Linked DNA regions of Homo sapiens. The protein of the gene in region 2 purifies or fractionates together with the protein of the main gene of each other region. This does not show direct contact. Each region holds a gene or a part of one and is shown on either strand. Other genes may lie near its edges. The genes, in order: ZC3H11A and SPANXC.

Region 1 (3,824 bases), on a different chromosome or scaffold from region 2:
CAAATACTGATCAAGATGAAAACACACTATGTTCTAGCTTTAAAGAAGAACCACTGAGATTTAGGGTTAAGGCTAGAACTTTAGGAATTATTATCTTGAGATAAAATATATGAAACATAAAACTATCTTATTTCTGGCTATAACCAAACTGGAATATTTGGGCCCTTTTCTTACTGTTAAAATGAAAAACTATCATTCAAAACTATAGTCTTTTGCTTTTTGTGAAAAGTTGATTCAACTTGTTGGGACGACTTTTAGACTAATAGGAAAAATCTATGTTCTTTGGTAGCTAACAAACATATACTTTCCTACAATTTTAAAAATTGGCACACATATTAAGAAACCTGGACTTCTATAAATTAAATTTCTTATCTGCTGCACCTTCATGCTTGAAAATTCTAAATCGTTGACTCTAAAGATCAAGTTTATTCATTTATTTATTTTTTATCAGCCTCTTGAGCCAGAGTAGGCCCAGAGAGACTCCCTAAGATCACTTTTAAACCCTCCCTCCTTTTAAAAACTTAATGGCATTGCTTGAGTTACAACACTAAGGAGTAAGTATCCGTGTCAGAAAAAAAATCCTCACATTATAATAATATAAATTCTTACCTAAAGCATATGCAGCTAAAATTGAGCACACTTGTAAATTTGGCAATATATCCAGATGAAAGGTTTCTAAGCCAAATAATAACTGAAATTCGGGCACTTACACGAAAGGCCAATAGCATTCTGTCTGGGGTCTCTTGTCAAGATGGATCCCAGGCTGATATGATGATGTAAGATTACTTAGCTCACAACATCAAGACTTTCCTACATCAGTTTTATTTAAAACACAAACAAGTATTTCTCTTTCTGTAAGGGCAAATGGTTCAAATAATGCGGAACACGAAACATTGACTAATACAAGTGCTTTAAATATGAAACAAAATTATTTTTTAAAAAAGCAAAAGAATAAAGAATATATACAAAAGGGACCTGGAATCTGTAAGCTGATTCCAAAAACGAAATAAGTAGAAAATCCATGGTGAAACCTGAACATTCTACCTCTGCTTTGGAGAAGGGCTATCATACAACATTCAGTCAGCTGAAGATGGATTGGTAGAGGTGTGTCTATACATAAACTTCAGTCATTTTTGCTTGTGCAGAATCATCCCAATCTTCCCAAGACTGAATGGGCAGTCCTGTGGCTTTCTTCCTTTTCCATATTCCCAACAAGGCTACGTGAAGTTCAACTCTTGATGAGCCGCTTACAACAGCAGTTCCTTAGGAGCCAACATGACAGGTGGGTCAGATTTCCCTATGAGAAACAAAACTGGCCACCTACAGCAAAATATCAAAATGGGTAAGTCCTTCCTTCCTCTTCCTCCTGATTATATACAACATATCTCCTTTCAAGACTATTATTTCCATCATGCTTATTCCTTCACAAATCTAAACCTTGAGGTGATATGAAGGAAACCAACATCAAGAAAAGAAAACTCAATTCAGAAATGAAGAAAACTGGCAGGTATACAATACACCCCCAGAGCATCTCAATATCCCTGGCACAGTACAATTCAGTGTACTGCTACAGCCCATAGATAAATATTGGCAGCTTGAATAAGCTCATTTTTTCCCTCAGGTGGTTAAAGGCCACCAAACAAATACTGGGCAACAGGGGTTTGTTGGGAGAGTTAGAAATAAAAAATTAACCAAATTTTGTCCCTGTGTTAATTCAATGCCAGCAAGGAGGCAAGTACTGAAGAAGAAAAAGGACAATTTTCATACTAAAAAAGAATTCCTCTAATCATGTCACCATCTCATATAATGAATCCAGGGAATCCCAGAAATAGAAAATTAGTTTCAGGGGACCCCTGAGGCACTTTAAAGCCTTTTAAAAAATTACAGTAATAATAAATTAGATATTGCTCTTCAGAGGCTAACAGAGCAGCAGAAGCATCAAGATCAGGTCCAAAGAGTTATGCCCACATTACAGGCTTCCTGAGCTGCTCAGCCCTCTTTAAAGCTTAGTTGAATCTTTAAATACCTTTAAAAAGACATACAATTTAACACAGACTGAGTGGGTATTTTTGTTTAGTGGTAGCATAAAATTTGGTCCTTAATGGTAGCAGCTGTCTTCATCCATTTCAAACTCAGGTAATATTAAGTACATCAAGACAATACATAAAGAATACAACAAAGAAGAAAAAAGCCAAAACTGACAAACACCTCAAGGAGTCACTAAGTTCGCTTGCACCCTTTCACTTGATCTCCCTCTCAGTCTCTTTTTTGTGGAGAGAAGGGTATGACAGAACTTTTTTCTCAAAAGATGATAAACAATGGCATCAAATGGACAAAATGGTTATAAAGTAACTTTAAAAATCTGACCCCAAGGAATCCAGGACACATACAGATAATTCAGAGGTATACTTCTGATTTGGGGCAAATTCTAGACTAAAGAAATGATCATCTCAGGTAAATGTTACAATAGATGAAACTAAGTCCAGTTTTTTGGCGATTTTTTTTTTAAAGTGTCCTCACTACCACCTTCAGCTATCAATCATTTCTGATAGCTCAAGCAGAAGGTCATCTTCATCTTTCCCAGGATCCAGGTCAATCTCAGCTTCCAATTTGCCTCCTGAAATCTCCCATATTAGTTTCTCAAAATCATCCTCCACAGAGAGTGGGGGCTTTCCTGTTGAGGCAGAGCTGAGTCGGCGAGTTTTCATGCTCATTTGGGATGAGGAAGGGCCAGACACCTCCGGGGGTGAGGAATCTGAAGAGGACTGGGTTGGAGGCAGCACAAGACTGTAAGAAAAAAAAGATTATTAGAAAACTGCCGTTTTAAAAATAGTTGGCTGAATCACCTAGTCTCACGGACACAAAGTGAGCAAAAATTTGTTTTTAAGAACATACATAAAGAAATAATTCTTTTACTGATTTGGGATCAAGCTTTTTTTTTTTTTTTTTTTTTTTTTTTGAGGCAGAGTCTCCCTTTGTCACCCAGGCTGGAGTGTAGTGGTACAATCATGGCTCACTGCAGCCTCGACCTCCTGGGCTCAAGCGATCATTTTGCCTCCGCCTCCCAAGTAGCTGGGTCTACAGGTGTGTGTCACCATGTGATTTTTTTTTTATTTCTTTGATTTTTATTAGAGACAAGACCTCACTATGTTGTCCAGGCTGGTCTTGAACTCCTGAGCTCAAGTGATTCTCCAGCCCCAGTCTCCCAAAATGTTGGGATTACAGGCATAAGCCGCCTTGCCTGGCCAGCACCAAGCATTTTTATAACTCAAAGTAGGTGTTAAAGACATCTTTCAGGGGCCGGGCATGGTAGCTCATGCCTGTAATCCCAGCACTTTGGGAAGACGAGGAAGGTGGATCACTTGACGTCAGGAGTTTGAGACCACCCTGGACAATGTGGCAAAACCCTGTCACTACTAAAAATACAAAAATTAGCTAGGCCTTGTGGCAGGCACCTGTAATCCCAGCTACTTGGGAAGCTGAGGCAGGAGAATTGCTTGAACCCGGGAAGTGGAGGTTGCAGTGAGCAGAGATTGTGCCACTGCACTCCAGTCTGGGTGACACAGTGAGACGCTGCCTCAAACAAAAAAACAAAAAAACATCTTTTAGGTAATATAGCAAAATGTAAACAATGGCACCAAAGAAGAACAGCAACCCTAGATTTTCATACTTTCTTGCAATTAATTTGAAGTGCAACAGATTTATTTGAATGTTGCTAAAGTTATTTATCAGTGTTATTCTCTAGAGAGCCTAAACAGTAACAGGGGCCTGGAGTTTGTTTAGAAAGAATTACAAAGTATTACCTGTCTCTAGGATTTTCTGCT
Region 2 (3,350 bases):
TATAAAATTTCAAAAAAACAAATTTCATTTGCCGCATCCTGTTTTTAATTAGGGCTTATTGTTTGGGATATTAAGCCTCCTCTCTCAAAGAATAAAGATTTTCACCTTTTTTTTTTCTTTTTTGAAATCTTTGAGTTACTGCTTTGGTTAAATGAATGACTTATTTTACAATGACCCATGACCCTATTTCGTGATATCAAGCATTTTAAACTTTTTATCTTTGACGAACTTTCCAAAGTCAAATTCTAACTTGATTCCTCATTAATTTTTTGATATGAGTCCTCTGAAGTCCAAAAGAGACATATTGGTCTTATTTGGTATAAAAATCATACAAGAAGCATCGTCAAATATAAAATGCTGTTTGACTTTCTTTGGGCTGTATTTATAGAAATGTCATTGATATGTGCTCCAAAATTATGGGAAACTCTTATACTTCTGAAATAACTTGTGTATGTTATTAATTATAACTTTTATGTTAAATTCTTGTATGCTACAGAAGTAACCAAAATTTACTTGTCAATGGTGGTTTTAATAATGGCTGTCCTGGCTGGGTGTGGTGGCTCACGCCTGTAATCCCAGCACTTTGGAGGCCAAGGCGGGTGGATCACGAGGTCAGGAGTTCAAGACCAGCTTGGCCAAGATGGTGAGACCCCCGTCTCTCCTAAAAATACAAAAATTAGCCGGGCGTGGTGGCACAGGCCTGTAATCCCAGCTACTCAGGAAGCTGAGCCAGAGAATCACTTAAACCCAGGAGGCAGAGGTTGCAGTGAGCTGAGATCATGCCATTGCACTCCAGCCTGGGCAACAACAGTGAAACTCCATTTCAAAAAGAGAAAAAAATATACACCCCTGATTTGAAACAAGACTAGGATACACGGTAAAGAATGTTTATTCACTAAAGTTTTGACAGACTGAAGGCCATTATTTCAGATTGGAGATAGGAAACTTAAAAGAACTACATGGACATTGGGTAAAAGAACATGGGTTGAAATTTGCCTGGCAGTAGCCCAAAAGTAAATGGTCTTCGAGGTGCATGTGAAGGAACTGTAGGAGGGAAATGGGATAATTCACATCTCTGCCAATAAATAAATGTAGCCACACTAGCTTGGGGGATTTGAGGTGAGACATCGAAAATACTAAGTCATGGTGAGGGCTGGAAGACAAAAGAATGAATCACTTAATAGGAATGGCTGTGGGGAAGGGCTTGAAGGAATCATCCTCTGACTTCCATGTGAACCGTGAACATTAAACATGGAGAAATGAGGAGCGGCGGCAGATCGGTTTGGGATGCATCTTCAGGGGATGCTGAAACAACAACAGCATTTGGTTTGCTCTACACCCCTGTCACCCCTCGCCCGCAAGCCCAGGGAGTGGTCAGCAGTGGGGCTTTGTGATGTGAAGCCACCCTAGGGCTGCCATTGGCTGGGACACTGCCTGTATGATCAAACAAAGCTCAAGGGTGTGGCTTTGCCTTGTCACCAGGAGGGTATATACAGGGAGGGCAAGAGCTCCGGGCCACTGCGAAGATTCAAAACCTACAAAAGCCTGCCGCTGACATTGAAGAACCAATATATACAATGGACAAACAATCCAGTGCCGGCGGGGTGAAGAGGAGCGTCCCCTGTGATTCCAACGAGGCCAACGAGATGGTAAGACTGTTAGGTTTTGAATTGAAGGCGAGGGTGAAAGAAAGACACACAGAGCGGGGGCGGCTCAAACAACAACACAGGAATATTGCAGACCATTGTGGAAGTGGGGGGCCCGCTTAATGCCAGAGCCCACCGCCGCTTACAGGCTGGGGTGCTTGTAGGTAGGGGTGGGAGGGGCCTGGGCAGTATGGCTTGCTGCCCGGCAGGATATTGATAAGATGTTCTTATGATCAGGTGGTTTGGCCCTTTTTCTGGTGGAATATCATTGTGGTGTTCCTTAGAACGCTGCCAAGCAAGATATGATAGGGATGTTTCTTCAGTTGGGCCTTTGTCCGCCTTGCGGACAGGTGGTTAGGCAGGATGTTTCTCACGGCCTGAACCCCCATGGGATGTTTCACTTTGACCAAGGTCTGCAAAATAGCAAAGAACTGACAAAATGGTGCAGTTTGGACTCACAGGTGACCCTACCCACGCTCCTCTTCTTCTTCCCCATAGATCCCTACTCTGTGCTTCAACCTTCTTCTTCTCTGGATCAAACCCCTTCCTCAACCCGCATTCCTTCTTCTCATGAAGCCCCCTTGCTATCCAGTCTCTATCCTGTTCACCCAAAATAATGTCCTCCTGGCCTCTCCCTGCTTTCTTAACAGATGCCGGAGACCTCGAGTGGGTACTCAGACCCGCAACCTGCTCCGAAAAAACTAAAAACATCTGAGTCCTCGACCATACTAGTGGTTCGCTACAGGAGGAACGTGAAAAGAACATCTCCAGAGGAACTGGTGAATGACCACGCCCGAGAGAACAGAATCAACCCCCTCCAAATGGAGGAGGAGGAATTCATGGAAATAATGGTTGAAATACCTGCAAAGTAGCAAGAAGCTACATCTCTCAACCTTGGGCAATGAAAATAAAGTTTGAGAAGCTGATGGCTGTGTATATCTCTGCCTGTTTTCTGATGGTGGCGGGGGAAGGGAAGGGAAGGGAAGAGGTAGGCATTTGAGAAGGGAGGGATATGAGGTCCTGTAGGGTTGGTGGACAGACCCACAGGTTGACAGTAAGCCAGACATTGTAAATAAGGCCTGGGGGAGGACTGATTCCTAAAGAAAATTTTCTTCTTAAAATTTTATCTCACAGGAAGTGGAGATGTGTATATGTTCACGCAACTGTACCCGGCAGCACATAGTTCTGCTGAATGTACATATCAAAGGTATTCCCATCCCCTTTCCATTTGATATTTTCCTAGGCTAGAAATAGATGCTTTATAAAGCGTAAATGTTCTGTAAAACACAAAGCACAATACAAAAGAAGATAGTAGATGTAGGAGTAAGTAAACGGCAGGAAAGCATTGCTTGTGATGAAATGATTGAAAAGCCAATTCTAAAACAAAATGTTCAATGCATCTTAAATATTTGTTAGTGTTTTAATGACCTCAGCAGTCTTTAATCAAGATAAGTATGCTTTAGAAATGTGTTGATATCCGCAAAGTGTGAATATTCAAAATCGCCATGACTTGGGAAAAGGAAAGTAAAACACTCTTAAGTATGAGGAGCTTTTTCCCATGGAATGTGAACTGCAAGGTGGTGAGAAGGGTTAGGTGTGATGTGGTGAGATCATTTTTAGGAGAGTGTGTCTATTATCGGCTTCCTAACACTTCCATTTTGCATGATAATTTCCTGAAAGTCATCATTTAATTAAGGCTATAGA

The links.
Region 1: the proteins of SPANXC (region 2) and ZC3H11A purify together in Homo sapiens (affinity purification with mass spectrometry; one large-scale study listed by BioGRID and IntAct). This does not show direct contact.

Annotation. Positions count from the first base shown.
Region 1 is NC_000001.11:203,851,104-203,854,927, reverse strand, and holds the end of ZC3H11A (zinc finger CCCH domain-containing protein 11A), read right to left. Parts: coding exon 3,804-3,824; intron 2,788-3,803; coding exon 2,529-2,787; 3' UTR 804-2,528; downstream 1-803. UniProt on the Homo sapiens protein: Through its association with TREX complex components, may participate in the export and post-transcriptional coordination of selected mRNA transcripts, including those required to maintain the metabolic processes in embryonic cells.
Region 2 is NC_000023.11:141,240,685-141,244,034, reverse strand, and holds SPANXC (sperm protein associated with the nucleus on the X chromosome C), read left to right. Parts: upstream 1-1,517; 5' UTR 1,518-1,577; coding exon 1,578-1,649; intron 1,650-2,296; coding exon 2,297-2,518; 3' UTR 2,519-2,572; downstream 2,573-3,350.